Homo sapiens: one gene and its partner. The protein of the gene in region 1 purifies or fractionates together with the protein of each later gene. This does not show direct contact. Each region holds a gene or a part of one and is shown on either strand. Other genes may lie near its edges.

Region 1 (3,512 bases):
GTAGGAGCCCTGAGTGAGTGTCCATTCCAAGGGGACGAGTCCATCCACAGTGCAGGTAACACAGAGACTTGTTTGCTGACATTGGACCACGGATCCTGTGGCCTTTGGTGACTCCTGTCTTCTTGATCTCCCTCTCCCTTAAAACCCATTCCTTTGGCTCACCTGTTCCTAGGGTTTCTAACCCTGTTATTCCAAATCTTTCACCTGACTCCACAATCTCCAATACACCCATCCGAGAAAAAAAGTGATCTAAGAGAAGAATTGGTTAATTGCTTGGCCTTGGCTGACCAAGAGATACTGGTCTCGAGTATTTTTTTTTTTTTTGGTGATGGAGTCTTGTCCTGTTGCCCAGGCCGGAGTGCAGTGGTGCAATCTGGGTCACTGCAGTCTCCACTGAGTTCAAGTGATTCTCCTGCCTCAGCCTCCCAAGCAGCTGGGATTACAGGCGCCCTCCACCATGCCTAGCTAATTTTTGCATTTTTAGTAGAGATGGGATTTCACCACGTTGGCCAGGCTGGTCTCAAACACCTAATCTCAAGTGATGCACCCACCTCGGCCTCTCAAAGTGCTGGGATTACAGGCGTAAGCCACCGCGCCCGGCCTGGTCTCGAGTCTTTTATAGTTCTCACTGGCAGCTGTCACCAGCAATTTCTCTGAGTGTTGCCCATCTGCCTGGTCTCTCTGACAGGGATGTTCAGAAGCTCTCACCTAAATAAAAGACCCACCTTTCCCAGATATTTGAGGGAGAGCTCTTGAAGAAGGGAATGGGATGGCGGGTGTGGTGGCTCACACCTGTAATCCCAGCACTTTGGGAGGCTGAGGTGGGCTGATCCCTCAAGGTCCGGAGTTCAAGACCAGCCTGGCCAACACTGTGAAACCTCCTCTCTACTAAAAAATACAAAAAATTAGCTGGGCATGGTGGTGGGCACCTGTAGTCCCAGCTACTTGGGAGGCGGAGGCAGGAGAGTTGCTTGAACCCAGGAGGTGGAGGTTGTGGTGAGCAGAGATCACGCCACTGCATTCCAGCCTGGGAAACAGAGCAAGACTCCGACTCAAAAAAAAAAAAAATGGGGATATACTGGGGCCCTGGCCCTGCTTTGGGTCCATCCCTTCTGCCACTACCATGCCTAGGAACCAGGAGGATTTGGGTTCTAACTTCCTGTGAAGCAACTCCCTTAGAGGGCCTTTTGCCCCATAGAAGGAGCTGGCACTGCTTGTCTGCCAGCTCTGCCCTCCCAGCATCCAGCACCCCATCTTTATTCTGGGGCTCCAGCCCTGTCCCTGTCCTCACCTTCCTTCCTCCTTCTCACCAACCAGGCCTCTCTTCACTTCACCTCACCCCTCTGACTATGTTTTCTTCTCCTCTCCAGTGACCAATGCACTGCACTCCATTCTAGGTGAGTAGGCCACACTGAAGCGGAAGCGGGGAGCGGGGAGGAGGCCCCAGGCTCTGGCAGCTGCCTGAAACTAAGTCCTCTTCAGTCAGGAATGTAGTAGGTTTAAAGGCAGGGGTGGGCAGCCGTGGCAGGTACTGGCTTATTGCCCATGGAGGGCCCAGGACTGGTGCTCCAGTACTGAACCCCTCACACCCTGGGTCCCGACAGGGGAGCAGACCAAGGCGCTGGTCACCCAACTCACCCTCTTCAACCAGATCCTGGTGGAGCTGCGGGATGATATACGAGACCAGGTTTGGGTGGGCTGGCGAAGGGTGGCACTGATTCTGGGGTAGGGTGGCAGATGTCAAGTGCTGACTCCTCCCCATCCTTCTCCAGGTGAAGGAAATGTCCCTGATCCGAAACACCATTATGGAGTGTCAGGTGTGCGGTGAGTGGGAGAGCAGGGGAGGCTCCACATGACCGTGCCACGTTCCCCACCCAATGGCTTTGGCTTTCCCTTCTGGTGGCTTAAATAGTGACCACCGGGTAGCTCTGACTGTGTCCACCCCTCAGGCTTCCATGAGCAGCGTTCCCACTGCAGCCCCAATCCCTGCTTCCGAGGTGTGGACTGCATGGAAGTGTACGAGTACCCAGGCTACCGCTGTGGGCCCTGCCCCCCTGGCCTGCAGGGCAACGGCACCCACTGCAGTGACATCAATGAGGTGAGGGAGGTCAGAGCCCAGAAGGGTACAGAAAACTGGGGTGAGGATGTCAGGAGGCACCCAAGAGGGTGGGATAAATGCTGGTCCGGAGGAGAGGAATCTGGAGTTTAGGAGAGGTCAGAGGCAAGAGAAATGCAAGATGGGAGAGACAGAAGGCCTGGGGCAAAGACTGAAGGCCATACAGGGAAGGAGCTGGGGAAACTGCAGGGGAGGCTTGAGATGGTGACCAGTGGCATGGGGAGGGAGAGAGGGAACCCCGAGGGAAGTGGGGTGGGGACCAGGAGCACAAGGCAGTTGTGTGGGGAGAGCTGCACAAAGGGGAGACCTGGAGCAATGGTTCCTGGATCACAGGCAGGGACCTGAGTTTCCCAGAGGGCGGCCTGACCTCTGCCTTCTCATCTGGTCCCCAGTGTGCTCACGCTGACCCCTGTTTCCCGGGCTCCAGCTGCATCAACACCATGCCCGGCTTCCACTGTGAGGCCTGTCCTCGAGGGTACAAGGGCACACAGGTGTCTGGTGTGGGCATTGACTATGCCCGGGCCAGCAAACAGGTCAGACTGGGTAGTGTGTGTGGACAAGGGATCTTGGCCTTGTAGAGGCCAGGGGCTTCTGGGTTGGACATGGGACCCTTGTGATGAATGGGACATGGATGGCTTTGCATCGGCTTTGGGTCTGGGCTTAATGTTGATGTTCACAGATAAGGCCATACCAGTGTCCTCTGCTGTATCTGAGGAGACCCACCATAGGTCTGGTTCCACCCAAAGTCTGCCCCTTCAGGTCTGCAATGACATCGATGAATGCAACGATGGCAACAATGGTGGCTGTGACCCAAACTCCATCTGCACCAACACTGTGGTGAGCTGAATATCCTGAGTGTATTCTGGGGTGGTGGGAATGGTAAAACCCCAACCCCCGCCCCTTCTTACCTTCAAATTTCCTGCTGCCTTTCCTCCTCCCCAGGGCACTACACAGATTAGGTGTTCACATGGACTTGGTTTGGAATACTGGTTTGCCTCTTGCTAGCTCTTTAGCAGGTTATTTAACTTTTCTGAGCCTCAGCTTCCTCATCTGAAAACTGAGGCTGTTATCCACCCTGAAAGGTTGTCATGATAACCTAAAGGAGATACTGATATGCCTGGCATAACTGAGTGCCCAGCCCACACTCCGCAGGTGGAGCAGTGCTGGTCCTGGGTGCCTGGTGGGCTCACCCTCCTTCCTAAGATGCTGCCTCTCCACTCTTAGGGCTCTTTCAAGTGTGGTCCCTGCCGCCTGGGTTTCCTGGGCAACCAGAGCCAGGGCTGCCTCCCAGCCCGGACCTGCCACAGCCCAGCCCACAGCCCCTGCCACATCCATGCTCACTGTCTCTTTGAACGCAATGGTGCAGTGTCCTGCCAGGTGAGCTAGGCTTCAGGCG
Region 2 (3,974 bases), on another chromosome or scaffold:
TTTCATCTTTCCTCATGTCTTTCAGCTTATCCACAGTAAGCTTTTTTTCTTCTAATCTTGTTAGGATGTGTGGTGGTAGGATTGAAAATTGTCTCAAAGGGCTAGCCCAACCCCAAAGCCTCTTGTCAATGACTTTACTAAGATTCAGGAGCCTGTAGGTCATGGTAGGCCAACGTTTCCTCAGAGCAATTTCAAAAAGAGCACGGACAATTCTAGCTGCATTCTAAAAAATTATAGGAGGAGATTGGTGGTTATACCCAATGTGCTTTTAAATTTGTCAATAAATCTATTATTCAAACTCAGTCTGAAAAGAAGTGCAAGTCAAGCTGCATCCTTGAATTGTGGGGCAATATCTTTTCTCATATAATCCTAATTATCTTATTATTTCTACATAAGAATAATCCTATCCTTTATATGTGGATGCTACTTGCTTACTCTCAGAGGGGAAGCCTTATTTCCAAGTTCTTAGAAAGCTCTACCTTCTAAACAGGAATGAAGTAGGAAGAGACAAAAGGCATGCAAAATATTTAGGAGGCTGTTAAGGCATCTGACTATAAGAGACAAGGACGCCTCTTGGTGAATAGTGGAATGATTAAATTTACAAGGCTATTTAGAGGATTAAGGAAGACTGGGATCCTGATAGGGAAAAAAAATAATGAGAGAAGGGTGACAAATGAAATACTGATTAGTGTAGCTACTCATATGAAAGGGCCATACAAATGGCTTCCTATAAACCAAACAATGTGTTAACTTGCTTTACATATATTGCCTCATTTAACTTTTACAAAAATTGCATTTAATTGATATTAATATTATGATTTTATAGATGAATATACTAGGGCTTAAAGAGGTAAAAAATTTGACCAAGGTCACACTGCTAGTTGGTGTCAGAGCATCTACTCAAAGCCAGGACTAAAGGACTCCAAATATAACTGAGATTCTAGACTCAGTGGTCTGAGGATAACTTTATTAATAGACATATAGAAAGTTATAATGAATGTAGTCTTTTTCTTCACATTTCTACAGCTAGCTCCCATTTATTTTGCCTCCACTCCTCTATCATTAACTTTGCAGATTGTTTTATTAAAGATTGTTTTTTAAATGAACTTATACCTTCCAAAATCCAGTAACATCTGTATTTGAAAATAAAGAATGTTCAGTCTGGTTAAAATCCAAACAAGAGATACAAAACTGAAAAGATTTCAAATGGCAGACAAACAATCCAGCCTAAAATTATGAAGTCAAAAATGACAGATGAGTTAAAGGCTTTCATTTCACATTTTATATAAGATATGCGCTGTCTTTTGATAAATTTGACTATTTTGTTTCAGTATTAGAAATTAAAGTACAAAATGGTAGATAGAAGTATGAGGACAGTTCTGATATCCATTAAAAATGACTGAATGGGTCTTTATAAGGCCCAGAGAATAATAAATAAAATTTTGATTACTGTATCTACCAAATAGGTTTTCCTACCTCATTCCCACTTGTTCTTACAAAAAACTATCAGGCTAATTTTCCTGCCTTTGAAAGTATGTCATTTTAATATTTCAGGATCTACAGTTATCCCCTCAATGCTAAAAGAAGTAGGAGAAATTCCATATGACAAGATACAAACAGGACATGTTAATCTAGAATGATATAAATTGGTTCAAAATAATAAGTCTATAACATGTACAGTCTAGAAAAGTTAAGCATAGGCCTTTAAATAAAATCCTAGAATATTTGAGCTATAGGTTTACCTTAGGGGCTGAGGAGAGAAAGTTTAAAAAATATAGAAGAAAATATCATTTTACAGAGTTGAGAGAGTAGTTGTTCAATTACTGATAGCTTAAACTTAAAATGTAATAAAGTATAATTTATCTGATGCATTCAGGGATGCTAAATCCATAATGGCTGTTTAAGAAAAAACAGGGATGCTTTGAGATATCCTTAATCAGAAGTTGACTTCCTGGATACCAATCATGAAGAGAATTAAAGTTTTACATTGTAAGCAATTCTTATGTCAGTCTCTGATAATATCTTCATAATCTTGAAGCAAGCAGAAATGTTGCCAGATTATTCATCCAGAACCCAGTAAAACTTTACCTTTTATTTAAATGATTAACTATTTCAATATAAAATCATTAGAAAATATAAAATGACAATATTACATTACTTTACAGAAAAACAGATAAAACAAAGGAGATTAGAAAATTATTCCTATAGAAGCTATAGGGTTTAAAGAATATATAAATATTTTCACTACATCTATATTAACTTTATATAATTTATGAATTATATAACCTGGTATCTTGGTTACATTGATTAAATTACTACATGCATTCAAAATGTTTACCAATATGTCTTGGTTTGTGTTTGTAAATATTCCATGTTTAAAGGACTCCTGAGTACTCATGGCTATTAATAATGATATATTTAACACAAACATTCTTTTTCTATATTTAGTCTTTCTTTGAACAAAATTACAAATATAACAGCAGAATCATTTCCATATTTAAAATAAAATTAAGCTTTAATTTCTTCTTAATTTATAAAAGGAAGTACTCAATAAAATAAAATTAAAAAGCCTTGACAGGTAAATAATTTTTTTAAAAAAGTATGTCTAGAAGGGAAATCTTTCATTTGAAGGATAAATAGGGTAAAATATAACCTACTTTACTTCACATAAGGGCTTGAATATAAAAACACAAATATTTGAACAGTTTATACCATGGTATTTTTTAAAAGTTATAAATTAAATGAGCTGTAGTTTAGGGAATAATTTTCTTTCTGTCCTCAATGTTTAAGTTTCAACAGTAGAGAGGAGAGATTACTTTTGTAAAAACCAGAGACATCACACTGAACGTATGGTAGGAAATATGTTTACTACGCCTTGTTTAATGATTAAAAATATTATTATTTCTAATATTTGGTAAAAATCTAAAAAAGTTCCACAATCTTTTCTTTATGCTTGCAATATTCTTTAACTTTTCTCTTTATAAGTACTTTATATTCTTTTACTTTATAAGTAAAAGAAATGAAATTCATCATTTAAAGTAGAAAAAAATCAGGTATCATTTTAAAACTTTGTAAGAAACATCAACATCACCAAAAAAAGCCCTATCAGTCACCAAATCTCATCCCCAGTCCTGTTTTATGAGCATAGATTACATAAAATATTTACAAATTAGCAGAAACAGTTCTAAGTAAAATGGTGGTTTGGTAGCATGTCACAAAGCAATGCATTCATAGCACAGCATGAATTAACACCTTGGTCCTCTAAATATATTCAAGGAAGAGAAAACTGGAAGGGAATAAGATACTTACCTGTGCAACATATGCAGAATCTGATATAAGGGAGAAACTGTCCATTTCTCCTCGGCTGATATAAGTTTGAAGTAAGATGTTTATTTTCCCATAACTATTCTCTACACCTCCAGGAGTGGAGAGTTCACAAAAATTGCTTAATAAGGTATCTAACTCCTCTATTTCCTCTTCTCTGACCTAGAAGAATCAATGTATTTATTGGAATTTTGGGGCTGATTTATTTAAATTTTTCACATTGAAATTAAATACATTGCATGTTTTTAAAGAGTTTCCATTTACTATAATGCAGCATTTTTCTTTCATAGAGTTAAATAACAATGATTTTTCCATAGGTAGCTAAAAAACTGCAATATGAAATGATCTTGAGGCTGATACAATTACATTTTATTATTCATCACCAATATTAAATTTGCCATTGACATATAAAAATTTGATATGCCAAAAAATTAAATCTTCTGACCTCACCATCCTTGAATTGATGAGATTTCATATTTTATTTGACCAGAGTAAAACCTCTGCCCAACTGGATTAGGGCAACTTGAATTATCTTCAAATGCATTCATTATAGTCATATATTTTTATATGGTATAATACATTCATAGCTTAAAGCCATGAAGTACTATGATTCAAAGTATTAAAGTTTTCACTGTTAATAAGATTAAATA

Evidence for each region. Proteins that work in one complex are often made in the same cells at the same time.
Region 2: the proteins of THBS3 (region 1) and ASCC3 purify together in Homo sapiens (affinity purification with mass spectrometry; 3 studies listed by BioGRID and IntAct, with this or other methods). This does not show direct contact.

What each region holds. Positions count from the first base shown.
Region 1 is NC_000001.11:155,201,398-155,204,909, reverse strand, and holds part of THBS3 (thrombospondin-3 isoform 1 precursor), read left to right. Parts: coding exon 1-55; intron 56-1,370; coding exon 1,371-1,397; intron 1,398-1,604; coding exon 1,605-1,687; exon of another isoform or gene 1,688-1,772; coding exon 1,773-1,824; intron 1,825-1,949; coding exon 1,950-2,098; intron 2,099-2,508; coding exon 2,509-2,649; intron 2,650-2,795; coding exon of another isoform or gene 2,796-2,875; coding exon 2,876-2,953; intron 2,954-3,340; coding exon 3,341-3,493; intron 3,494-3,512. UniProt on the Homo sapiens protein: Adhesive glycoprotein that mediates cell-to-cell and cell-to-matrix interactions. Can bind to fibrinogen, fibronectin, laminin and type V collagen.
Region 2 is NC_000006.12:100,647,229-100,651,202, forward strand, and holds part of ASCC3 (activating signal cointegrator 1 complex subunit 3), read right to left. Parts: intron 3,487-3,974; coding exon 3,310-3,486; intron 224-3,309; coding exon 1-223. UniProt on the Homo sapiens protein: ATPase involved both in DNA repair and rescue of stalled ribosomes. 3'-5' DNA helicase involved in repair of alkylated DNA: promotes DNA unwinding to generate single-stranded substrate needed for ALKBH3, enabling ALKBH3 to process alkylated N3-methylcytosine (3mC) within double-stranded regions.